Homo sapiens: one gene and its partners. The gene in region 1 interacts genetically with each later gene. Each region holds a gene or a part of one and is shown in the gene's direction. Other genes may lie near its edges. The genes, in order: SLC35A1, SAP18, COPE, GFI1B, MED23, SCYL1 and LEO1.

The links.
Region 2: changes in SLC35A1 (region 1) and SAP18 together harm fitness more than expected from each alone (negative genetic interaction), as found in Homo sapiens cells (one large-scale study listed by BioGRID).
Region 3: changes in SLC35A1 (region 1) and COPE together harm fitness more than expected from each alone (negative genetic interaction), as found in Homo sapiens cells (one large-scale study listed by BioGRID).
Region 4: changes in SLC35A1 (region 1) and GFI1B together harm fitness less than expected from each alone (positive genetic interaction), as found in Homo sapiens cells (one large-scale study listed by BioGRID).
Region 5: changes in SLC35A1 (region 1) and MED23 together harm fitness more than expected from each alone (negative genetic interaction), as found in Homo sapiens cells (one large-scale study listed by BioGRID).
Region 6: changes in SLC35A1 (region 1) and SCYL1 together harm fitness more than expected from each alone (negative genetic interaction), as found in Homo sapiens cells (one large-scale study listed by BioGRID).
Region 7: changes in SLC35A1 (region 1) and LEO1 together harm fitness more than expected from each alone (negative genetic interaction), as found in Homo sapiens cells (one large-scale study listed by BioGRID).

The regions. Positions count from the first base shown.
Region 1 is NC_000006.12:87,475,974-87,479,473, forward strand, and holds part of SLC35A1 (CMP-sialic acid transporter), read left to right. Parts: intron 1-1,388; coding exon 1,389-1,566; intron 1,567-3,500. UniProt on the Homo sapiens protein: Transports CMP-sialic acid from the cytosol into the Golgi apparatus, functioning as an antiporter that exchanges CMP-sialic acid for CMP. Binds both CMP-sialic acid and free CMP, but has higher affinity for free CMP.
Region 2 is NC_000013.11:21,143,119-21,146,357, forward strand, and holds part of SAP18 (histone deacetylase complex subunit SAP18), read left to right. Parts: intron 1-1,973; coding exon of another isoform or gene 1,974-2,166; intron 2,167-3,239. UniProt on the Homo sapiens protein: Component of the SIN3-repressing complex. Enhances the ability of SIN3-HDAC1-mediated transcriptional repression. When tethered to the promoter, it can direct the formation of a repressive complex to core histone proteins.
Region 3 is NC_000019.10:18,909,388-18,912,887, reverse strand, and holds part of COPE (coatomer subunit epsilon), read left to right. Parts: intron 1-1,816; coding exon 1,817-1,917; intron 1,918-3,500. UniProt on the Homo sapiens protein: The coatomer is a cytosolic protein complex that binds to dilysine motifs and reversibly associates with Golgi non-clathrin-coated vesicles, which further mediate biosynthetic protein transport from the ER, via the Golgi up to the trans Golgi network.
Region 4 is NC_000009.12:132,988,694-132,992,187, forward strand, and holds the end of GFI1B (zinc finger protein Gfi-1b), read left to right. Parts: intron 1-367; coding exon 368-505; intron 506-982; coding exon of another isoform or gene 983-1,048; coding exon 1,049-1,214; intron 1,215-2,044; coding exon of another isoform or gene 2,045-2,064; exon of another isoform or gene 2,065-2,146; intron 2,147-2,178; coding exon 2,179-2,357; 3' UTR 2,358-2,994; downstream 2,995-3,494. UniProt on the Homo sapiens protein: Essential proto-oncogenic transcriptional regulator necessary for development and differentiation of erythroid and megakaryocytic lineages.
Region 5 is NC_000006.12:131,590,243-131,593,742, reverse strand, and holds part of MED23 (mediator of RNA polymerase II transcription subunit 23), read left to right. Parts: intron 1-571; coding exon 572-737; intron 738-1,282; coding exon 1,283-1,355; intron 1,356-2,215; coding exon 2,216-2,430; intron 2,431-3,300; coding exon 3,301-3,421; intron 3,422-3,500. UniProt on the Homo sapiens protein: Required for transcriptional activation subsequent to the assembly of the pre-initiation complex. Component of the Mediator complex, a coactivator involved in the regulated transcription of nearly all RNA polymerase II-dependent genes.
Region 6 is NC_000011.10:65,531,583-65,535,082, forward strand, and holds part of SCYL1 (N-terminal kinase-like protein), read left to right. Parts: coding exon 1-101; intron 102-1,109; coding exon 1,110-1,223; intron 1,224-3,500. UniProt on the Homo sapiens protein: Regulates COPI-mediated retrograde protein traffic at the interface between the Golgi apparatus and the endoplasmic reticulum. Involved in the maintenance of the Golgi apparatus morphology.
Region 7 is NC_000015.10:51,954,779-51,958,278, reverse strand, and holds part of LEO1 (RNA polymerase-associated protein LEO1), read left to right. Parts: intron 1-3,500. UniProt on the Homo sapiens protein: Component of the PAF1 complex (PAF1C) which has multiple functions during transcription by RNA polymerase II and is implicated in regulation of development and maintenance of embryonic stem cell pluripotency.

The DNA.
Region 1 (3,500 bases):
TAGGTGGGAGGTGGGTGAGGAAAGTAGAAATAGTTTGATCCTTGGGTGATGGCAGTACCCGAGCAGGTCTGGGAATAAGGAAGTATGAGGGAGACTTGGTACCCACTGCTTATGGTTTTACCAAAGGTCTTGGACAGGCTCTGGTGCCTGAGAGATGGCTGCTGCTCAGATATACTTGCAGGCAATTCTTAAATTAAGTGTTTATATGTTTCCTGCATTTCTAGTTTTATAGAGGTGTGTTCTTAATATTCTTTTCCTGTGTTATGAATTATTGTTTTGTATAATGCAATGAAATGAGTGGCTAGTTGTAAGTTCTTATTGTGAAAAAGTTTTATATTAAGCCCCACTCATTTCTCAATTATTATTTTCTTTCTGCTGCCTTTAAATCTAGAATATACATTGCTGCAGTTGGTTTCATGCTTTGCATCCACAAGTTTGTAATCATAAAAATATTTAAAATATGTGCTGGGGCCAGGCGTGGTGGCTAATGCCTGTAATCCCAGCAGTTTGGGAGGCCGAGGTGGGTGGATCACCTGAGGTCAGGAGTTCGAGACCAGCCTGGCCAACATGGTGAAACCTCTTCCCTACTAAAAATACAAAAATTAGCTGGGTGTAGTGGCGGGTGCCTGTAATCCCAGCTGCTCAGGAGGCTAAGGCAGGAGAATTGCTTGAACCCGGGAGGTGGAGTTTGCAGTGAGCCGAGATCACGTCAAGATCATGCCACTGCACTCCAGCCTGGGTGACAGAGTGAGACCCTGTCCTAAAATATATGTCTGGCACGGTGGCTCACACCTGTAATTCCAGCACTTCAGGAGGCGGAGGTGGGCGGATCACTTGAGGTCAGGAGTTAGACACCAGCCTGGCCAACATGGGGAAACCCCATCTCTACTAAAAATGCAAAAAATTAGCTGGCTGTGGTAGTGCACGCCTGTAGTCCCGGGAGGCTGAGGCACGAGAATCGCTTGAACCTGGGAGGTGGAGGTTGCAGTGAGCTGAGATCGCGCCACTGTATTCCAACCTGGGGGACAGAGTGAGACCTTGTCTCCAAAAAAACCCACCACCACCACCAATATATATATAATGTAATTTATAACATCCTGAACTAGAATCAGTACGCTACATAGTCTTGCAATTGGGGCACTCCCTAGGAACAAAACTTATGCCTAATTGGCTGATGTTTAAAGTCAGCTGTGGTGTGTGTGTGTGTGTGTGTGTGTGCACGCTCATGTAATTGGCAAACATTGTTTTGAAAAAAATTTTTAAGCATGAGTTTTAGAAAATATTTTGTGCTTGGAATTGGAAAGTATTTTTAGGCTATAACTAGTTTATTAACTTATATATACATATATTGTCTACTAAGTAATGTCTTTGTTGCACGTATTTTCCAGACAATGTCACTTTATTATTCAAGTTATACTGCTTGGCAGTGATGACCCTGATGGCTGCAGTCTATACCATAGCTTTAAGATACACAAGGACATCAGACAAAGAACTCTACTTTTCAACCACAGCCGTGTGTATCACAGAAGTTATAAAGTTATTGCTAAGTGTGGGAATTTTAGCTAAGTGAGTATAAATACTTATAGTGTGTTAAATTATTTTTCTACCTGGTGAGGGTATTTGTTAGAAAATTCAAGCTACATCTTTATATGTTTAATTGCTCTGGGTCAGTGTTTCTCAACTAGGGGTGATTTTGCCCCCCAGAAGATTTTTTAGTTGTCACAACTTGAGAGATGCTACTGGCATCTAGTGGGTGGAGACCAAGGATGCTGCTAAACATCCTGCAATCCCCATGACAGCCTCACAACAAAGATTTATCCAGCCCCAAATGTCAGTACTGCTGAGGTTGAAGAACGCTGCTGTAGAATAGAAGTTGGCAAACTATGTCTCATGGGCCAAATCCAGCTTGCTCCCTGGTTTTGGTGTAATGGAGACTGACTGGCTTGCAAAGCCTAAAATATTTACTGTTTGGCCCTTACAGAAAACAATTATTGACTTGTGTTTTGGATGAATATAATAATAATAACATTTCTTGAGTGTTTCCTATGTTAAGTGCTAGGCACTGTGCTATGTGTTTTTTGTGTTTTCTCATTTACTTCTTCCACATTTTCAAGGTAAGTACTTTACCCCTGTTTTATTGACGCAGCATCTGAGGTTCCTTAAGATTACACTGTTAATATGTGGCAGCACCGGGCTTTGAATCAAAAACATCATGCAAGAATTGTTTAGCTAAGGATGTGGTATAAGAGAGGGTTAAGAATTAGGGGCATTGGAGGAGATAGACCTAATTTTAATCCTAGACTGAGATTGTGGCTGCATACACACTTGTAACCTCTTTAAGCTTCAGTTTGTTCATTTTTTTAATTTGAGAAAATAATATGGGGTGCTGAAAATTAAATAAAATCTAATAGGTAAATTACCAGGGGAAAGATTTATGAGATGGGGACCTATAGGAGTCATTGGGGCAGTTAAGAAGTCATACAGGTTTCAAGATGTGTGTTGGTGAGTGAAGGGAAGCAGGGAGGAATAGTGTTGTGTGTAGGCTTTTATGTAGAAACAGACATTACATTTAAATATTGAAATGTTACACGACATTGTGATTGCTTCAGCTTCAGCAGTGTGTGATGAGACAGTTGATAATGCAACTGCAAGCATGGCTATCATTTTGGGAAAGATACCGAGTGAAAGTGTTGAAAATTGGTTCTAGATCTTGAAAAGGCTTATACTAATCCACTTGAAGTAGTTCGAATATGAAAAATATGTGTTATAAATAAAGTTTCAGTGCCACACACAAAAAAACAGCACTCGAATACAAAATTTTCTTTTTTTCTTCTCAGCAAGGCAGTTTTCCTTCTATAGAAGGGTGTGCCCTCACAGATGGAGCAATGGTGAGCGCACACCTGGACAAGGGAGGAAAAGGGGACTTATTCCTTATGCACGTGGCCTCTATGGCTCTGTCGTTCCCCTATTGGCTAGGGTTAGACTGCACAGGCTAAACTAATTCCAGTTGGCTAATTTAAAGAGAGTGATGGGATGAGTGGTTTGGCGGGAAAAATGGTTATGGCAGAGCAGGAAATCGGAATGAGTCAGGGTGGAGAGGGTAATCAGAAAAGGTTGCTTTACGAGGAAGTTAAATTTAAAAGTAGAAGGCAAAGAATTGAACATACTGACATACTGATTCTTCGAAGAGAAATTTAGAACTCATATCTAACAATCCCCTCCTCTTGCATTTTCCTTACACCTCTTTCTCTTCAAACTTCTTTAACATGCCTTGGCTTAGTTCTGCTCAATTTTCCGAAAGAAGAAGCTTCTCTGGATAAGGTGGAGGATAGTTAAGGGAGGTTTTAGTAAGTGCCATTTCTATGAGCACTTACTCTGCACCAACCCACAGATGCATGGTATGACACAGCACCCGACAAGAATAAGTACACCCATTACAGCTGTGAGGGAAGTAAGAATTGAGGCTGTTATTCCTTTCCATTTACCGAACCACTTTTCTA
Region 2 (3,239 bases), on another chromosome or scaffold:
TGATGGACACTTGGGTTGTTTCACCTTTTTTGCCATTGTGAATAATGCTGCTGTGAACATTGGCATACAAATGTGTTTGTGTCGCTGCTTTCAGTTCTTTTGGGTATGTACCTAGGAGGGGATTACTGGGTCATATGTTAACTTTGTTTAATTTTTGAGGAACCACCAAACTTTTTCACAGCAGCTGCACTATTTTATATTCCCCAAAAGATGTATAATTTTAAACTATTTAAGCCCTGTACACTAGAGCTAATCCCTTGAAGATTGGGACCTTACTTGTCTTATTTGGAGGTGCTTGTTAAATTTATGTAGTAGTATGATACCTGTACTTAAGCATCACTCAAGGGTAAGTGTTCTAGGAAGGTTGATTTAGCTTATATGGAAGAACTGTTGAATAATGGCTTGATGAAAATCTCTTCAGAAATTAAAGTGTATGTTTCTTCCAACAAGAGTTCCTATTTGCCAGGTGCTGTGTGTGCTTAGATCCTGAGGGTATAAAGTCAAGACGGTACTGCTCCTCCCTGTAGTAAGTCCTTTTATCAGGGAAAGCGGATGAATAGAGTGATTTTTAGGGTTAAAATGGCAGGGTGAGGTTGTTCCACAGACCTTCCACTCTGAATCAAGAAAAAAAATTACCAAAAAAATCCTGTCCTAAACTATACCGTCCATAAATTGCAACCAAACAAAGAAGGAACAACTTTAAGTTACATCTCAAAATGGTGGCCAAAGAAAAGATTCTGAAAGACTGGATGATTGGTATGGGGGTAACACAAAGGCCTGCCCTCATTCCCAGAAATAGTAATGAGGGAAAATTAGTTAACATATACTGGAAATTCTCAATTTGGAGAAGTAGACTGTGGGGTTAAATAGGCAGTCCCAAGAGAAGTTATGGAAACAGGAGTGGAAGTCCAGAGGAGCCCAGTAGAGGCAGGCTGTGTTCACCAAAGTCAATCAGGGCTCAGCCAGAAAAACAGAATTGGGAGAGATGTGTTAAGAGATTTATTTCTGCTGGGCGTGGTGGCTCACGCCTGTAATCCCAGCACTTTGGGAGGCCGAGGTGGGCGGGTCATGAGGTCAGGAGTTGGAGACCAGCCTGGCCAACATGGTGAAACCCCGTCTCTGCTAAAAATACAAAAATTAGCCAGGCATGGTGGCGGGTGCCTGTAATCCCAACTACTTGGGAGGCTGAGGCAGGAGAATTGCTTGAACCCAGGTGGCAGAGGTTGCAGTGAGCCGAGATCAGCGCCACTGCACTCCAGCCCGGGCGACAGAGCGGGACTCCATCTCAAAAAAAAAAAAAAAAAAAAAAAAAAGCTTTATTGCAAAGAATTTGGTTTACGTGATTGTGGGGGCTGTCTAGGCCCTTAATTGTCAAATCTGTAGGGCAGGTTCTCAGGAAGGAAAGGCTGCTCTTAGGGCCTTTCAACTAATAGAATCAGGCCTCCCCAGATTATATAGGATAGACCTCTGAATTTAAGGTCAATTGGTTGTTGACTTTAGTCACATCTATAAAATATCTCACAGCAATACCTAGGTTAGTGTTTGGTTGAATATCTGGGGACTGTAGCTTCGTCAAGCTGACACAAGTACTGAACCCCACCCTGTCCTCAAGCTTCTGACTAGTGATGAAAAAGCAACACTTGGCACTCCAATTGTTGGTCTGGAAAGACAGTCCTTAGAAGGTGGGAAGCTTGTGTAGGTTTCACACTGTCAGAACTGATAAAAGGTGTGATATAAATCCCCCAAATTAATTAAGAGCAAGACAATATTGAAAATATTTTTAGAAAGGAAAAAATTCTTTCTGGTATATATCATCATAAGTATGTACTGTGTATCAGAATATAGACTGAGCATCGCAAGTCCAAAATCTGAAATGCCACAAAATCTGAAACTTTTGAGAGCTGACGTGACACCGGTGGAAAATTGCACACATAAGTTCTTGACCTCTTTTTTTTTTTTTTTTTTTGAGACAGAGTCTTGCTCTGTCATCCAGGCTGGAGTGCAGTGGCGCGATCTCGGCTCACTGCAACCTCTGCCTCCCAGGTATAAGCGATTCTCCTGCCTCAGCCTCCTGAGTAGCTGGGATTACAGGCGTGCACCAAACTTCCTTTCATGCACACAATTACTTAAAATGATGTATAAAATTGTATTCCAGCTGTGTATAAGGTATGTTTGAAACATAAATGAGTTTCTTATTTAAACTTGGGTCACAACCCCAAGATATCTTACGTATATGCAAAAATTCTAAAATTTGAAAAAACCTAAAACGCTTCTAGTCCCATGTATTTTGGGTAAGGGATACTGAACCTATAATTGATACAGAATAGTTAACATCAAAATATCAGGTTGAAAAAAGGTCACCTCTGAGACAGATAAACCAATGTGACCTCAGGTTTTTTTGTTTTTGAGACAGAGTCTCAGTCTGTCACCCAGGCTGGAGCACAGTGGCACAGTCTTGGCTCACTGCAGCCTCCGCCTCCCAGGTCAAGCGATTCTCTTGTCTCAGCCTCTCGAGTAGCTGGGATTATAGGCTACAGATGTGTGCCACAACGCCTGGCTAATTTTTGGATTTTTAGTAGAAACGGGGTTTCACCATGTTGGCCAGGCTGCTCTCGAACTTGAGCTCCTGGCCTCAGGTGATCCACCCGCCTTGGCCTCCCAAAGTGCTGGGATTACAGGCATGAGCCTCCGCACCTGGCAAAAAAATGTATACTAGGTTATTTCTAAGATGCTTATATGTTAAAATATTTTTTTCAGATTGTTCTCTTATTAGCTCAGGGGACTATATGAAAGTTGGATTCAAGTCAATATTTGCAGGGTAAGAAACTATTGTGACAAGAGCCTGTGCTTCATTGTAAGAAACTTTTGTATATTTCATTGGCTCTAGTACTCTTATCTGTTGTAAAACTTACAATTCTATCTAAGAAAGAAGAAACACATCTGGCTGGGCGCAGTGGCTCACGCTTGTAATCAATCCCAGCACTTTGGGAGGCCAAGATAGGTGGATCACTTGAAGTCAGGAGTTCGAGACCAGCATGGCCAACATGGTGAAACCCTGTCTCTACTAAAAATAGAAAAATTACCTGGGCGTGGTGGTGGGCGTCTGTAATCCCAGCTACTCAGGAGGCTGAGGCAGGAGAATTGCTTGAACCTGGGAGGCGGAGGTTGCAGTGAGCTGAGGTCACGCCACTGCACTCTAGCCTGGGCGACAGAGCGAGACTCTCTCAAAAACAAAACGT
Region 3 (3,500 bases), on another chromosome or scaffold:
AAACAAAGCAGGGACCCAGGCCTGCAGTGTTCAGTGACTGTGAACAGCCAGCGCAGCCAGCATGTGAAGGTGGCTGTGTCACGGAGGCCTGAGACTGCCAGGCCAGGGGGCCTGGGTCACAGCTTCTTGATTTTTTTTTTTTTTTTTTTGAGACGGAGTCTCACTCTGTCGTACTCGATCTCAGCTCACTGCAACCTCCGTCTCCTGGGTTCAAGTGATTCTCCTGTCTCAGCCTCCCAAGTAGCTGGGACTACAGGCGTGCGCCACCACGCCTGGCTAATTTTTATATTTTTAATAAACACGTGGTTTCACCACATTAGCCAGGGTGGTCTTGAACTCCTGACTTCATGATCCACCTGCCTCAGCCTCCCAAAGTGCTGAGATTACAGGCGTGAGCCAACGCGCCCAGCCGATTTTTTTTTTTTTCCTAAAATAATTGGTAGGAGCCAGGCACAGTGGCTCACACCTGTAATCTTTGGGAGGCTGAGGTGGGAGGATCACTTGAAGCCAGGAGTTCAAGACCAGCCTGGGCAACATAGTGAGACCCCCGTCTCTACAAAAAAAAATTAAAAAATAAGACAGTCATGGTGGCATGTGCCTGGAGTCCCAGCTAATTGGGAGGCTGTGGCAGGAGGATCAGTTGAGCCCAGGAGGTCAAGATTACAGTGAGCCGTGATCACGCCATTGCACTCCAGCCTGGACAACATAGCAAGACCTTGTCTCTAAAAAAATAAGAATGGGGGCTGGGCCCGGTGGTTCACGCCTGTAATCCCAGCACTTTGGGAGGCCAAGGCGGGCAGATCACCTGAGGTCAGGAGTTCGAGACCAGCCTCAACATGGAGAAACCCTGTCTCTACTAAAAATACAGAATTAGCCAGGTGTGGTGGTGCATGCCTGTAATCCCAGCTACTTGGGAGGCTGAGGCAGGAGAATTACTTGAACCTGGGAGGCAGAGGTTTCGGTGAGCTGAGGTCACAGCATTACACTCCAGCCTGGGCACCAAGAGCGAAACTCCATCTCAAAAAAAAAAAAAAAAGGCCGGGCGTGGTGGCTCACACCTGTAATCCCAGCATTTTGGGAGGCCAAGGTGGGTGGATCACAAGGTCAGGAGATTGAGACCATCCTGGCTAACACAGTGAAACCCCGTCTCTACTAAAAATACAAAAAAATTAGCCGGGCGTGGTGGCGGGCGCCTGTAGTCTCAGCTACTCGGGAGGCTGAGGCAGGAGAATGGTGTGAACCTGGGAGGTGGAGCTTGCAGTGAGCCGAGATCACGCCACTGCACTCCAGCCTGGGCGACAGAGCGAGACTCCGTCTCGAAAAAAAAAAAAATGGGGAAGGAACCATCTAGGAGGGAACACAATGAGGGACGGGCCCCCAGCTGCAGATGTGACAGTGGTATCAGTCTGGGCATCCTCAGAGGGCCAGTAGGTGGGCAGGGCTGGCTGGGGGCATGTCCTGCTTTATAGAAGCGCATGTCACAACCCCCATAACTGCTGCTGCCCTGCCCCCAGGTGACACGCCCTTCACCTCACCACCAGAGGTGGACAGCTGCCAGGGGATAGACAGTAACCTACCAGGGTCCCTAGCTCAAGGCATGGGCAGTGTGGCCCTGCAGATGAGGGCACACCTGGCTGCTCACGACAGGTGACGCCATGCCACCCTCCACAGTGTACTGCAGTGGAGGTGGCCCATGCTGGGCTGAGGGGTCCCTGGTGGGGCAGGGACTTCCTGTCTGGGGCTCTCCCTGCCAAGCTGAAGACATGGAAATCCTCTGGGGTGGACGGGTGCAGCTGACGCCTCGTCCCTACTGCAGAGGAAGTTCGGTGTGGTCCTGGATGAGATCAAGCCCTCCTCGGCCCCTGAGCTCCAGGCCGTGCGCATGTTTGCTGACTACCTCGCCCACGAGAGTCGGAGGTGAGGCCCCAGAGAATGGGTTGGCCTGAGGCGCGGGGCCATCTTCAAGGCCTGTTGGTTATGAACCTGGGTGGGTGGGGGCATGGCGTGCAGCGCACAGCATCCCTCAGATTAGGCGCCTCTCCCCTCTGCTCCCCTGCTGCTTTGTGCCTCAGTTTCCCTCACCTGCACAGCAGTGGGGGGCTGGTGATGGATCCTGCTTCAAAGGGGAGGGTCAGAGACAGTGCTGTGTGTGCACACGCCCTCATGGACCACAAGGCACTCTCTGAACCTAGAACTGAAAATATCAATTACCGAGCAGCCCTCTGCAACACCCAGAGCCCCAAGACAGCCCAGGGCGCAGCGGGGGCAGGGCCCTCCCATCAGTTTTCTTATTTATTTATTTAGAGATGGAGTCTCACTCTGTCACCAGGCTGGAGTTGCAGTGGTGAGATCTCGGCTCACTGCAACCTCTGCCTCCTGGGTTCAAGTGATTCTTGTGCCTCAGCCTCCTGAGTAGCTACGACTATAGCTGCGTGCCACCACGTCCAGCTAATTTTTGTATTTTAGCAGAGACTGGGTTTCACCGTGTTGCCCAGGGTGGTCTCGAACTCCTGAGCTCAGGCGGTCTGCCCACCTCAGCCTCCCAAATCCTATCAGTTTTCTAGTCCCAGCTAGTTGGGGACTGCAACCTGCCAGTATCTCCCCTGGAGCCCAGTGGGAGGGTGGGTGAGGCCACGCCTGTCCTGCCCCTGAGCCACAGGCCAGCGTTGGTCAAACGCCCATGGGCGGCAGCCAAGGGGAGAGGGGGCTGGGCTGTGGGGACCCAGGAACCTTGCCCCCTCCTGCTGTGGGGTCGGAGTGAGGGTCTGGCATGGGGAGACTGCTGTGATCCTGCTCTTCCTTGGCCCACGGAGGCAGTGTCCCAACTACCGCCTCCCTTCACTCAAAGAAACCTGGGGTTCCTGGGAGCTGACTCCTGTGCAGAGGCAGCATGGTGGGGTGAATGGTGTCCCCCAAAAGGTACGTCCATATCCTATCCCACATGCTTGTGAATATGATATCATTTGGAAAAAGGGTCTTTGCCGATCAGATTAAGAGATAAGGAGATGAAGACATGCTGGATTTAGGGTGGGCCCCAAAGCCAAGGACTTGTGTCCTTTTAAGAGATAAAAGGAGGGCTGGGTGCAGTGGCTCATACTTGTAATCCCAGCACTTTGGGAGGACGAGGTGGGCAGATCACCTGAGGTCAGGAGTTTTCAAGACCAGCCTGGCCAACGTGGTGAAACCCCATTTCTATTAAAAATACAGAATTAACAGGATGTGATGTCTGTGATTCCAGCTACTTGGGAGGCTGAGGCAGGAGAATCGCTTGAACCTGGCAGGCAGAGGTTGCAGTGAGCCAAGATCGCACTAGTGCACTCCAGCCTGGGTGACAGCGGGAGACTGTCTTAAAAAAAAAAAAAAAAAAAGGAAAGAGGCCCACAGAGTTAAGCCCATGTGACAACAGACTGGAGTGACATGTCTGCTAGCCAAGGAGCACCACGAGTGGCCAGCAGCCACCAGAGCTGGGAGAGAGGCCTGGGACGGCCTTGCCCTCCAGC
Region 4 (3,494 bases), on another chromosome or scaffold:
GTTCAGAGAGGTTAAGTCACTTTTCCAGGATCAGACAGCAAGTAGATATCAGAACCAGCATTCAAACCCAGCTTCGGCCAACTCCCAGCTCTTAACCACTGGGCTATTCAGCCTCTAGATGAGGCAAGGAGGGGCCTCCAGATCCCCTCTCTCACATCCAACTTTGTAGAAGGGAGACTGAGCCACAGAGAGGCAAACGGACCTCCCTGGGACACACAGCAAGCAAGCAGCAGAACTGGCAATCCAGTGCCCCTTACTCTGTGTACCCAGCCTTGGCCAGAGCTGGGCATGGAAGAGACCATGGGACCCCAGGCCTGTCCCTGTCACCGCAGCCCCCAGTGGCCTCACATGCTGCCCCTGCTCCCAGGTCTTCTCCACCCCTCACGGGCTCGAAGTGCATGTGCGACGCTCCCATAGTGGGACCCGGCCCTTCGCCTGTGACATCTGCGGCAAAACCTTCGGCCACGCTGTGAGCCTGGAGCAGCACACGCACGTCCACTCCCAGGTGGGCACCTGGCCCAGCGCAGGACTCCCAGCCCCACTCCTTCTCTGTGCTTCCCCAGGGAGCCTGGGGGCTGTGGCTGGGTCCCTCCCCCTGCCCCTGGGGGTGACACAGATTGGGAGGGGTCCCCTAGTACCCACCTCCCTGGGTCTGGGTCTCCAACACCTGCCCTTAACAAACTTCAGACTCTTAACTAAACCACCGTGCAGACCACAACCATCCCTGCCTCAAGGAACTCACTCTAGGTTAATGGTCATGAAATGTGAACCCCTAAAGAACCTCTGAGATCAGTCAGTCCATCAGTCAATCAACGAACATTTATTGAGGTTTATTTTGAGCGGGATACCGTGAAGATTACAAGGAAAAATCCCACAGGAGACCAATGAGACTCCAAGCCCCAGTTTCACCTCAGAGGCAGAGATGAGGGGTCCCCCGGTCCTGCTCCTCCAGGCCGCCCCAATGGAGTGTCCTGTTCCGCAGGGGATCCCGGCCGGGTCCAGTCCTGAGCCTGCACCTGACCCCCCGGGGCCTCATTTCCTCCGGCAGGAGCGCAGCTTCGAGTGCCGCATGTGCGGCAAGGCCTTCAAGCGCTCGTCCACGCTGTCCACCCACCTGCTCATCCACTCAGACACGCGGCCCTACCCCTGCCAGTTCTGCGGCAAGCGTTTCCACCAGAAGTCCGACATGAAGAAGCACACCTACATCCACACAGGTGAGTGAGTCTCACCTGCCTGTGCCCCCTGGGCAGAGCACCCCCACCTTTCCCTGAGAGATGCATCAGAGGCCCCCAGCGTGAGGCTGGGGGCGGGGTCTAGTTACAAAGTCAAAGGCCACTGCTGATGGAGGGCTGGGCACCTGTGCTACTTAAGTGCACTTAATGCATGGAAAAAAATACAGGGAGGAAACAGCAAAATCTCAACACTGTTGATCTCATGGCAGACATGAGACTAGCAGGCGAACTGCTCATTCATTTGTTCACTCATTCACTCACTCACTTGCTCATTCATTTGTTCACTCATTTGCTCATTTATTCACACATTCGCTCACTCATTTGCTCATTCATTTGTTCACTCATTCATTCATTTGCTCATTCATTTGTTCACTCATTCATTTGCTCATTCATTTGTTCAGTCATTCATTCATTTGTTCACTCATTTGCTCATTCATTTGTTCACTCATTCATTCATTTGTTCACTCATTTGCTCATTCATTTGTTCACTCATTCATTCATTTGTTGATTCATTTGTTCACTCATTCACTCATTTGCTCATTTATTCACACATTCGCTCACTCATTTGCTCATTCATTTGTTCACTCATTCATTTGCTTATTCATTCCTTCACTCATTCATTCACTTGCTTATTCATTGCCTCCTTGCTATTAGCTGAGTGCCTCTTTTGTGCCAGGTATACCAGGCTTGGAGATGTATTGATAAACAAGATGACTCGGCAGCTGCCCCTAACCACCCTATAATCCAGTAGGGGTGGAGGAGGGTCCAAGTTGTATCTTTGCTTCTCTCTCTTTTCTAATTATTTTCTAAAGTGAATGTGAGTTGGCCATGAGAGAAAACACAGGAAGGTATTGGAAAATGAACCCGGGGGCAGGGCAGGGGAGCAGCAGGCCTGGTGAGGAGGCCCTGACCCCGCCCTTGCTGTGCTGCGCTGCCCTCCCTGCAGGTGAGAAGCCGCACAAGTGCCAGGTGTGCGGAAAGGCCTTCAGCCAGAGCTCCAACCTCATCACCCACAGCCGCAAGCACACAGGCTTCAAGCCCTTCAGCTGTGAGCTGTGCACCAAAGGCTTCCAGCGCAAGGTGGACCTGCGGCGGCACCGCGAGAGCCAGCACAATCTCAAGTGAGGCTGCGCCGGCTCCCAGCTCCTGGCCAGCCTGCCCTGCGGTCCTGTCACCTGGAGGCCAGCCTCACATGCCCAAATCTCCAGTCTCCTGGAGGTGGGACTGGACAGGAGTCTACCAGCTTGTTTTGAGACTCATGAAATTGCTGTGTGACCTTGGGCAAGTCACTTACCCTGTCTGGATCAACATTTCTCCTGCTGCCAAGTGTGGGAGCCTGGCTGGGTCTTTCTCAGCAGAAGTTGTTTCCAGGTGTGCTCAAGTGCCTTCCTCTAGCAGAGCACAGAAAGCTAGAATACCCCCAGGGAGACAGGGATGCCAAGAGTAGACCAGAGCTGGGACCCACAGACAGAACCTCCACCTGCCTGCTGCCCACTGAGCTGGGACCTGGTCACCTTGGATTTTAGCCGGCCTCTTTCTGGCTATAACAGGCAGAGTCGGAGCTGCCTCCCACCCCAGTCAGAAGCCTGGCACCCCCTCTGCTTCGGCCAGATGTGCTGGCTGACTCCGACTTCCGACCAGCACTCAGCTGGCCTCTGGGGATTCTAGCTCCACAACCAGGCCGTGAGGCTGGAGAAACTGGCAGTTATTGCTGTCAAAAGCCTGTTCTCTCAACTGCTGTCAATAAAATTAAAGATACAGATTTGCTGCCATGTGACCAGCATTTATTAAGTGCCTATGAGGTCCAGGGTACTGCACGAGGCTTTGGGGAGTGATGCGGGGAGGCTTGAGGAGCAGAGAAAGCCATGGAGGTGCTCATAGGCAAGTTGTGGAGAAGTGTACTCAGCCCCCACGTGCACAGACCCGCTGACGAGCCAGGAGCAAGCAGAAGGGGCCCGTGCGACAAGACCACAGGGGTGGGCAAGGCTAGTGCAGCTGGGGCGGTATCCGTTTCCTGTGGCTGCTGTGACAAATGACCACAAACTTAGTGGCTTAAAACAACACACATTTATTCTCTTAAATTCTAGAGGCCAGAAACTCAAAATGAGTCTCATGGGGCTAACATCAAGGTGTTAGCAGGACTGCATTCCTGCAGCAGGCTCCCAGGAGAGTCTGTTTTCCTGTCTCTCACCTTCCCAAGGCCGTCTGTGCCTCTGATCTTGGCCCCTTCCTCTGCCTTCAAAGCACATAACTTGGATCTCT
Region 5 (3,500 bases), about 44 Mb from region 1:
AAAAAAATTAATGTTTGTAGTAAATAATAAATGATAAAATATATTTTTCTTTATTGAAAAGGTATATTTTAGTGAAAATATACTTGGATGTTTATTTCTTCATTTTGATTTTATATTTTCAGTTATTAGCACTCTATACTTAATGTCTATAACCATACCACTATTTTACTAGGTAAGAAATTCTACATAAATGAGCATGACTTATTTTCCTACACAAAGGAATTTATTTTCTGAAGCAAAAGAATGACTCATTAGAAAATAATTTTCATATTAATGTCTTATAACTATTAAAAGAAATAGGCTCATGAAACCTAGGTAAACCTTGGTTGCATCTGTGGCTATTATATGTCATATTTATAAGAACCCACCTGAAAGACCAACCATTTATACCTGTGGTTAATCAAATGGTTGCTTTTAATACATTTCAATCATGTCAAACTCATTTGTATTTGGTTTGCATTTGCCTCTTAATCTCTCTAAGCGTAGACAAATCACTTCTTGGCAGCTCATAATCAGATAAATTGACAATCAGATGAGATAGTCCAATTGTTATTGCTTTAACTGTGTGCACCGATGGCTGGCAAATCTCCTGGTCCCTTTCCAAACTGTGACTGGAGATTCAATGAGTTTCCCAACCCAGCTGCCCATGCTCTCCATGTTACTTGTGTGGAGCTCATGGCCTTGGCAGTTTCAGGCAAAGAAGTTGGGAATGCCCTTCTAAATGTTGTCCTAAAAAGGTATGTATTCTGGTTCATGCAGTAAGATTTGTTGTTTATTTGTAAATAGAATGGTATTCTATTTCAAACTTTTAAGACAAACCTGTTGCCGCAAGGCTGATGCACATTGGATGATGACTGTTTTCTGGTTCCAGATCTTGTCTTTGTGATATAGGAGTTATGGAATGAGCCCTGGACAGGATCCTAAGATCCGGGTTTGTTCCTACTTCTACTCATTAATAGCAGTTTGACATTTAATATAGGAATAATGTTAACTTGTCACTTAAAACAAGATTCTCTTCATCTTGTTTTCAAGATTTCAAGATTCTTTTAAAAATTAGCATGAAGTATGGGATAATGATTGGGGAGGAAGTATTTTTAAAAAGCCTTCTTGAGTTTTTATGCATATTACATTTTTATTCAATAAAAAATTCCCCATTGTTTTATTGAAATGGATTAGTTGTCGATCCTCTGAATTAGACATATTCTTTAAAAATAAGATCCGTTGTCAGCCATCTAAAATGTTTTTATAAATTCATACTTACATTCTTTTTTGCCGGTTGCAGTCAGCCTTTAGTGCCAAGAGAGAACATTACAGCATGGATGAATGCAATTGGTTTGATCATCACTGCCCTACCAGTGAGTTAATAATTGTGATTTGTACTTAGTGATGAAATACAGCCAGCTGTTCCATGTCAGCAAAAAGAAAAAGATGCATATAGGATGCCCTTGTACGGGACGTCATGCAAATTAATGAAGTATTTTATGTTTTTAAAGTTTTTTCATATTATTACTGCTTTAAAAATCTACAGTGACTAGTTTTTGCTTTTCTGTATTAGATCTAAATATATCTATGTGACTTACGGGTCTCTGCATTTTCTGGTACCACCTTACCTATCCAACTTTAGTTTTTACATAATAGCTTGATCTACTCTTGGCCACTTAACGTGTTGTATATCTACAGCCTTTGTTCCTTCAGATAGTGCTTAAGACATGTTTTAGGTACTTCTGAATGTGAGGGAATAAGACATTTTTCTTATTCCAGAAGCTTCTTCTTTCCATCACCTTCTCTAAAGCCTATTCATTCTTTGCTAGCTTAGAGCCTCCTTTCTCAGTGAATGAAGCCTTCCCTGACTTTTCCAGCTCACATGAAGACTCCTTTCTCTGACCTCCACACATATTTTTTTAAAGTTTATTATTTTTAAATAAGTAATAAAGCTATAGATTTATTGTTTGATAAATTAATTGATTTACTGCATAGTGTATATCAGGTACCTAAATGAGCTGGACAGATACATGTATGGAGCCCCTTAACTCACAGTTACTTCTCCCAGGTTGTTACTGACTTAATTTGACCAGTTACAAAGCCACCCAGCTGTATTGTGCAGAAGCTGGAAAAATAGAAAACTTTAAAGAATGAGAAAACACTATTACTTTAGACTTTGGGGTGGAATGCTGGATAAGTGATATTTTTCACTAGCTTTCCTCCGATTTTAAAGGAGCCATATTGGATTGTTCTTCATGATCGAATTGTGAGTGTCATCAGCAGCCCCAGCTTGACGTCTGAAACAGAGTGGGTTGGCTATCCATTCCGCCTCTTTGATTTCACTGCCTGTCATCAGTCCTACTCTGAGATGAGTTGTAGCTATACGTTAGCTCTTGCACATGCTGTGTGGCACCATTCTAGCATCGGACAACTTTCTCTCATTCCAAAGTAAGTATAATAATTTCTTAAAGAAATTTGACGTAGGCTGGGTGCGGTGGTTCATGCCTGTAATCCCAGCACTTTGGGAGGCCGAGGTGGGCAGATCACAAGGTCAGGCGATTGAGACCATCCTGGCCAACATTGTGAAACCCCATCTCTACTAAAAATACAAAAATTAGCTGGGCATGTGGTGTGTGCCTGTAACCCCAGCTACTCGGGAGGCTAAGGCAGGAGAATCACTTGAACCAGGGAGCTGGAAATTGCAGTGAACCAAGATCGCGCCACTGCACTCCAGCCTGGTGACAGAGTGAGACTCCATCTGAAAAAAAAAAAAAAATTGTATTTCATTTTGTTCTAATCTCATTAACAGATGAGGTATATACTTCATTCATTAGAACAACTTGCGGCTGGGCGCGGTGACTCATGCCTGTAATCCCAGCAATTTGGGAGGCCGAGATGGGTGGATCACAAGGTCAGGAGATTGAGACCATCCTGGCCAACATGGTGAAACCCCGTCTCTACTAAAAATAAAAGAATTAGCCAGGCGTGGTGGTGTGCACCTGTAATCCCAGCTAGTCAGCAGGAGAATCACTTGAACCCAGGAGGCGGAGGTTGCAGTGAGCCAAGATCACGCCACTGCACTCCAGCCCAGGCAACAGTGTGAGACTCCGTCTCAAAAAAATAAATAAATAAAAATAATCAAGTGAAAGTAATAGCCAGTGAGAGATGTGAGATTAATTAGAAATATTATTGTTACCAAATTAAAAGGAACTTTAAAAAATTATATTTTATTGTAATACTTTGTATATACTGTATGAACAAAATTCAAACAATTTAAATAATTTCAAGTCACAGGAGATTTTTATCTTCAAATTTTAGGTTTCTTACTGAAGTACTTCTTCCTATAGTGAAGACCGAATTCCAGTTGCTTTATGTATACCATCTTGTTGGACCATTTTTACAAAGATTTCAGCAAGAGAGAACTCGTTGTATGATAGAGGTAAAATATAATCTGGGTTTCCTGTGACATGATTAAATTCTGAAGTATCTATTTAAGTTTCTTTACCAGTGTTATTGAA
Region 6 (3,500 bases), on another chromosome or scaffold:
AGTTCCTGAGCGCTGAGGAGTATCAGCAGAAGATCATCCCTGTGGTGGTCAAGATGTTCTCATCCACTGACCGGGCCATGCGCATCCGCCTCCTGCAGCAGGTGAGGCCTCTGTACCAGACTCTGTGGTGGTCCACCCAGACCCCAACCTGGTGGCTGGGGAGGCACCTGCCCTGGCTGCACAGGGACCCCAGAAACCCCACCCCTGAACATACACACAACTGAGGGACCCAATGAGGCCAGGCTCTCAGAAAGTTGGCCACATACAGGGCTCCTTGGCAGTTTTGGGAATGGCCAGCTTGCCCAGGCTGCAGCGCTCTAATGCCCCCTCCTCTCCTGGCTCAGTCACTCTGGCCCTCTAGAGTGGGGATACAGTCTTTCTCCTGCAACCCCAGGGCAGCTGGGAGCATCAGACAAGATGGATGGGATCTAGGAAGTACCAGTGGCTCCCAGTGCCATTCCCTCTGTGACCACCAAACACACCAGTCCTCCTCGTGGCACTGTGGGCAGGTGGGGAGGAGCAGGGAAGGGGTGATACCCTCATTTATAGAAGAGGCTCAGGCTGGGCGCAGTGGCTCATGCCTGTAATCCCAGCACTTTGGGAGGGCCGAGGCAGGCAGATCACCTGAGGTCAGGAGTTTAAGACCAGCCTGGCCAACTTGGCGAAACCCCGTCTCTACTAAAAATACAAAAATTAGCCAGGTGCGGTGGTGGGTGCCTGTAATCCCAGCTGCTCAGGAGGCTGAGGCAGGAGAATTGCTTGAACCTGGGAGGCAGAGGTTTCAGTGAGCTGAGATTGCGCCACTGCACTCCAGCCTCGGTGACAGAGCAAGACTCTGTCTCAGAAAAAAAAAAAAAAAAAAAATAGAAGAGGCTCTGAGAGGGTGGCCAGATGAGCCGGACTATGAGCCAGGCCTTCCTAGCGCCCTCCTGGCCTTTCCTCACTCCTCCACCTGGGCCTGAGGCCAAACACCTGGGTGGTGGCTCAGGAGGTTGACCTGGCTGGCCAGTGCCTGCTGGGTGGAAAAGCTAAGCCAGGAGCGGTTCCATGGCTATGGGGATAGAGTGGGAAGGGCTGACCATGTTGACGCATCCCAACCTGGGCCACAGATGGAGCAGTTCATCCAGTACCTTGACGAGCCAACAGTCAACACCCAGATCTTCCCCCACGTCGTACATGGCTTCCTGGACACCAACCCTGCCATCCGGGAGCAGACGGTCAAGGTGGGTGTGGCCAGGCCCAGAGTGGCTACCCCTGGTTTTCCAAGGCTTGGAGGGGCTCACCCTAGACACAGAGGCCTTGGCTTTGGCCCATGGGTCCAAGCAGACACTGTCCTTGCTGTGTGGGTTCAGGCCGTGGGTGCAGCTCGGCAGCTGGCGGGGGAGCACGTCCTCCATTCAGCAGACAACGAGCATCTGCCTGTTCCTGGCCCAAGCCCCATGCTGGGAGGCAGCATGCATGAGGTGCCCAGCCCCCTGCACTCATGGAGCTTCCTTTCCAGGGCACAGAGGGTGGGCTTGCCAGACAATACAACAGAATTAGAAAATATGTATTGTTGGCTGGTCACGGTGGCTCACGCCCATAATCCCTGCACTTTGGGAGGCTGAGGCAAGCGGATCACCTGAGGTCAGGAGTTCGAGACCAGCCTGACCAACATGGCGAAGCCCTGTCTCTACTAAAAAGTACAAAACCATCTGGGGATGGTGGCGCATGCCTGTAATCCCAGCTACTCGGGAGGCTGAGGCAGGAGACTCAATTGAACCTGGGAGGCAGAGGTTGCAGTGAGCCGAGATCATGCCGTTGCACTCCAGCATGGGCAACAAGAGGGAAACTCTGTTTCAAAAAAAGAAAGAAAATATGCATTGTTGGAAAGTGTGGGGAGAAGAGTTTGTGGTTTTAAAAACAGTGGTCAGGGGCTGGGCGCAGTGGCTTACGCCTGTGATCCCAGCACTTTGGTAGGCCGAGGTGGGAGGATCGCTTGAGCCCAGGAGTTGGAGACCAGCCTGGTCATCATGGCCAAACCCCATCTCTACAAAAAAATACAAAAGTTAGGCGCGTATGGTGATGCACGCCTATAGTCCCAGCTACTCGGGAGGCTGAGGCAGGTAGGTAGCTTGAGCCCAGGAGGTTGAGGCTGCATTGAGCTGTGATCGTGACACTGCATTCCAGCCTGGGCAACAGAGTGAGACCTCATCTCAAAATTTAAGAAATTATTTTAGGCCGGGCCTGGTGGCCCATGCCTGTAATCCCAGCACTTTGGGAGGCCGAGGCGGGTGGATCACCTGAGGCGATGGGAGTTTGAGACCAGCCTGGCCAACATGGTAAAACATGGTAAAACCCCATCTCTACTAAAAATACAAAAAATGGCTGGGCCCGGTTGCTCACACCTGTAATCCCAGACTTTGGGAGGCTGAGGTGGGCGGATCACAAGGGCAGGAGATCAAGACCATCCTGGCTAACATGGTGAAACCCCGTCTCTACTAAAAGTACAAAAACAATCTAGCCGGGCATGGTGGTGGGCGCCTGTGGTCCCAGCTACTTGGGAGGCTGAGGCAGGAGAATGGTGTGAACCTCGGAGATGGAGCTTGCAGTGAGCCGATATCGCGCCACTGCACTCCAGCCTGGGCAACAGAGCAAGACTCCGTCTCAAAAAAATAAAATAAAATAAAAATTAAAAAAATTAGCCAGGCATGGTGGTGGGCGCCTGTAATCCTAGCCACTCAGGAGGCTGAGGCAGGAGAATTGCTTGAACCCAGGAGGCAGAGGTTGCAGTGAGTAGAGATCACACCACTGCACTCCAGCCTGGGTGACAGAGTGAGACTCTATCTCAGAAACAAAAAAGATACGGAGACGAGAGTGGCTCTGAGGCTTGTGGCCTGAGCAACTGGAAGGTTAGGAGTTGCTATTTACTGAGATGACACAAGCATGTTGGGCCCCATCTTGGCTGTTTCTGTTAGGCAGCTGGATGGAGATGTCGAGTTGGCCACTGGTTATGCATGTGTGAAATTTAGGGAAGTCTGGGCTAGGGGTATGTGCCTGGGGGTTGTCAGCTCACAAGATGGCATTGAAAGCCATGAAATGGCTGAGATCACCTAGGGCAAGAGTGTTAGATAGAAAAGAGCCCTCTAGATTGGCTCCGGGTGTGTGAACGTTAGAGTCTCAGCAAAAGGAGCAGCCAGCCAGGTCAGAGGAGAACCAGGAGGGGGTGGTGTCCTGGAAGACCAGAGACCAAAGTTTCAGGGAGGGAAAACTCAGGGGTGTCAGAACTGCTGAGGGTCAAGTTTGGTGAGGATGGAGAACTGGCTGTTGAAATTAGTACCGGGGAGGGCATCAGTGACCTCACCCTGAGCCAGTTTGGCAGAGTGTGGGGCTGTTTGTGTGAGTCTAGGTGGAGTGCCATCAGGAGAGCAGAGCAGAGGAAATGGGAAACAGGAGTGCAGACAGACTTTGGAGGTTTTGCTGTAAAGGGGGACAGAAATGGGGTCCCTTTCTTCAACATG
Region 7 (3,500 bases), on another chromosome or scaffold:
TTGCTGTGTTGCCCAGGTTGATCTTGAACTTCTGAGCTCAAGTGATCCTCCCGCCTTGACCTCCCAAATTGCTGGGATTACAGGCATGATTGCTACTGCACTTGGCCAAGTAGACATTTTAGAATTGAGTTGCACAAGGGAACAAGAGGTGGTTGAATGCATGATACTGAAACTGGAATTATGCATTTTCAATTCTTAAATCCGAAGGATTTCCTGTAAATTTCTTATTTTCTAGTGGGTATTTATATATTTTTTTTTGAGAAGGAGCATCGCTGTGTCGCCCACGCTGGAGGGCAGTGGCATGATCTCAGCTCACTGCAACCTCTGCCTCCTGGGTTCAAGTGATTCTCCTGCCTCAGCCTCCCAAGTAGCTGAGACTACAGGCATGCACCACCATGCCCAGCTAATTTTTGTATTTTTAGTAGAGACAGGGTTTCACGATGTTGGCCAGGTTGGTCTCGAACTCCTGACCTCAGGTGATCCACCCACCTCGGCCTCCCAAAGAGCTGGGATTACAGGTGTGAGCCACCGCGCCTGGCCTTGGTACCTTATTAAATTGTTAGAAAGGGATAGTCTGGCATTTTTTAGGCACTGAATTTTTATATTTTTAATAGTACCATCTCTTCAATGTGGTATATTAACAACTACCTAAATAACCTTGATATAAGATGGTTTCTATCCAAAAGCTTTTCAGTGAGACTTCACTACTCCTCTTAATGGAAATGCAAATCAAATAAGAAAACTGAGATAAACAGGTGCTAATAATTTGTTCAAGATCACACAGTCAACAGATATACTGCTTACACTATTTTTTTTTCCTGTCCTCCCTCCACCACCCATCTACTCATCTGTTTATTAGCCCATCTGTTAATATTATTTCTTTGGGACACATGGATGTATTGATTTAGGCTTAGCAGTATCAATTTTTCATGGTTGTTTTAGTGCCTCTGGCTTTAATTCTACTACTTTTCATTGTTTCCTGTCATATACATATAAACTAATATAGTAGTTCCTTATTCACTTTTTATCAATTTATTTAATTTTGTCTTTTTCCTTTTTCTTACTTTCTGTCATGATGCTACAGCTAGTATCAATATATCTATTATATTTTTAGACCATGTGATACCAGATTCTAGTATGGGTGTCAGACTTCAAAGGCCGGGCATGGTGCCGCATATCTGTAATTCCAGTACCTTGGGAGGCCGAGGTGAGAAGACTGGCCAGGAGTTTCAGACCAGCCTGAGCAACAGAGCAAGACCTTGTCTCTACTAAAAATAAAAAAAAATTAGCCAGCAGAGATGGCGCATGCCCATAGTCACAGCTACTCCAGGAGGCTGAGGCGGGAGGATTGCTTGAGCCCAGGAGTTTGAGGCTGCAGTGAGCTGTGATTGTGCCATTGCACTCCAGCCTGTGCAGCACAGCGAGACCCTGTCTCCCCCCCAAAAAAAAATTTATAAATATGTATTTTACCCTAAAATTTCAGTGCATCAGACTACAAAATGTTGGTGTTTAACATAAACTGTTGTCTTAAAACCTTGGTGTGTGATAGGAAATAACCCTGGACCCTTATTTTCTTGAGTGATGTTTAAGACTACGCTGACCAGTCTTAAAGCATGGTGTAGTTAATTCTTTAAGAACAAGGAACCAGGGAACCAGGTACAGCTTATGTACCTCTCTGAGGTCCCCTGTCTTCAGAAATACTATTATGTGTCCTTCATCCTGATAGGTTAAGACCTAGCAATGTGTCCTATTATAGCATCATTACTATTTGAATCACTTTATATAATAGAAAGCATTTTTTAGAACGGCTTCTCAATTAATAATGGCCTATTTGTGGTTTTTTTTTTTTTTTTTTTGAGATGGAGTCTTGCTCTGTCGTCGCCCAGGCTGGAATGCAGTGGCGCAATCTCAGCTCACTGCAACCCCCGCCTCCCGGGTTCAAGCAATTCTCCAGCCTCAGCCTCCCGAGTAGCTGGAATTACAGGCACATGCCACCATGCCCGGGTAATTTTTGTATATTTTTAGCAGAGATGGGGTTTCACTGTGTTGGCCAGGTAGGTCTTGAACTCCTGACCTCAGGTGATCTGCCTGCCTCGGCCTCCCAAAGTGCTGGGATTACAGGTGTGAGCCCTGCACCCGGCATATTTGTGTATTTATATGTGGCCAACCTATTGTATGAGATGGAAGACAGGAATAGTGACAGATTGTTTTGTTTTCAATCTGAAAATTTCAAACATACACCAATGTATTAAAAACAATATAATGAACTCTTTCATGTGCCCATGACCCACTTCAACAGTTGTCGAGTTAACAATCTTTTGTCATCTACATATTCCCCACCCCAGCTTCCCCAGACTATTCTGAAACAAATTTCAGGTATGACATCATGTTTAATTCATAAATATGATGGAGTTATTCAATCAGCACACTTTATAGCTATTTGTGAGGAATAAATAGGGAAAGGGGAAAAACTGGAAGGGGGAATCATTAGGACCCAGCTGCACAGACATTTGCAGCTAAAGGAGTGGAGATCCAGACGATCTCCGTGGGACTGGGAGCAGCTGTGTTTAGGATTGACACTGGGGGAACAGGCAGAGGGAAGCATGGTCTTGGCATTGGCAGTTTTCACATTGTTGGCTTCTGTCTGTTGCCAGCTTCATTCTCATTCTTTCTATCCTTGTATGTCCTGTTTTTACTCTTCATTGTCATTTTAGTGGGTTTCCAGGAGGCAGCAGTGATAAACTGCATGCGTTTAGTATGCCATGTTTTCCTGGAGATCCCACTGACTTTACTTTCAGTAACAGTGGTTTTCATTTGCCAACTCTGGTGTTTCCCCACCATGCAGGTAAGATAGTTAGGCTCTAAACCTATTGAAATCTGGGGTTTTCATTTTCATAGGGCACTTATTTATCCTTATTCATATATGGGAAGTTTATCTCTCTGTGCCAATAGGCAGAGTTTTTGGTCTCATTTTTATGGAGTTTTTAGCTCTGTGAGAGAACTTGCTTTATACAGGGGTTTCACTTCAAAATTTCTTCCTCGGCCGGGCGTGGTGGCTCACGCCTGTAATCCCAGCACTTTGGGAGGCCCAGGCGGGCGGATTATGAGGTCAGGAGATCGAGACCATCCTGGCTAACACGGTGAAACCCTGTCTCTACTAAAAAATATGAAAAAATTAGCCGGGCTTGGAGGTGGGCGCCTGTAATCCCAGCTACTGAGAAGGCGGAGGCAGGAGAATGGCGTGAACCCGGGAGGCGGAGCTTGCAGTGAGCCAAGACTGCGCCACTGCACTCCAGCCTGGACGACAGAGCAAGACTCCGTCTCAAAAAAAAAAAAAAAAAAAAATTTCTGCCTCACATGGACTCAAGTTTTATCGCCTGACCCTTGTAATTCTTACTGTCTTAACACATCTCGGGGTTAGTGTACATTTAGTATCTGCCATCTGCTCAAATGCTCTAAGCTTTCTCTATGATTATGATTCTAGGAGCTCAGAAATTCAC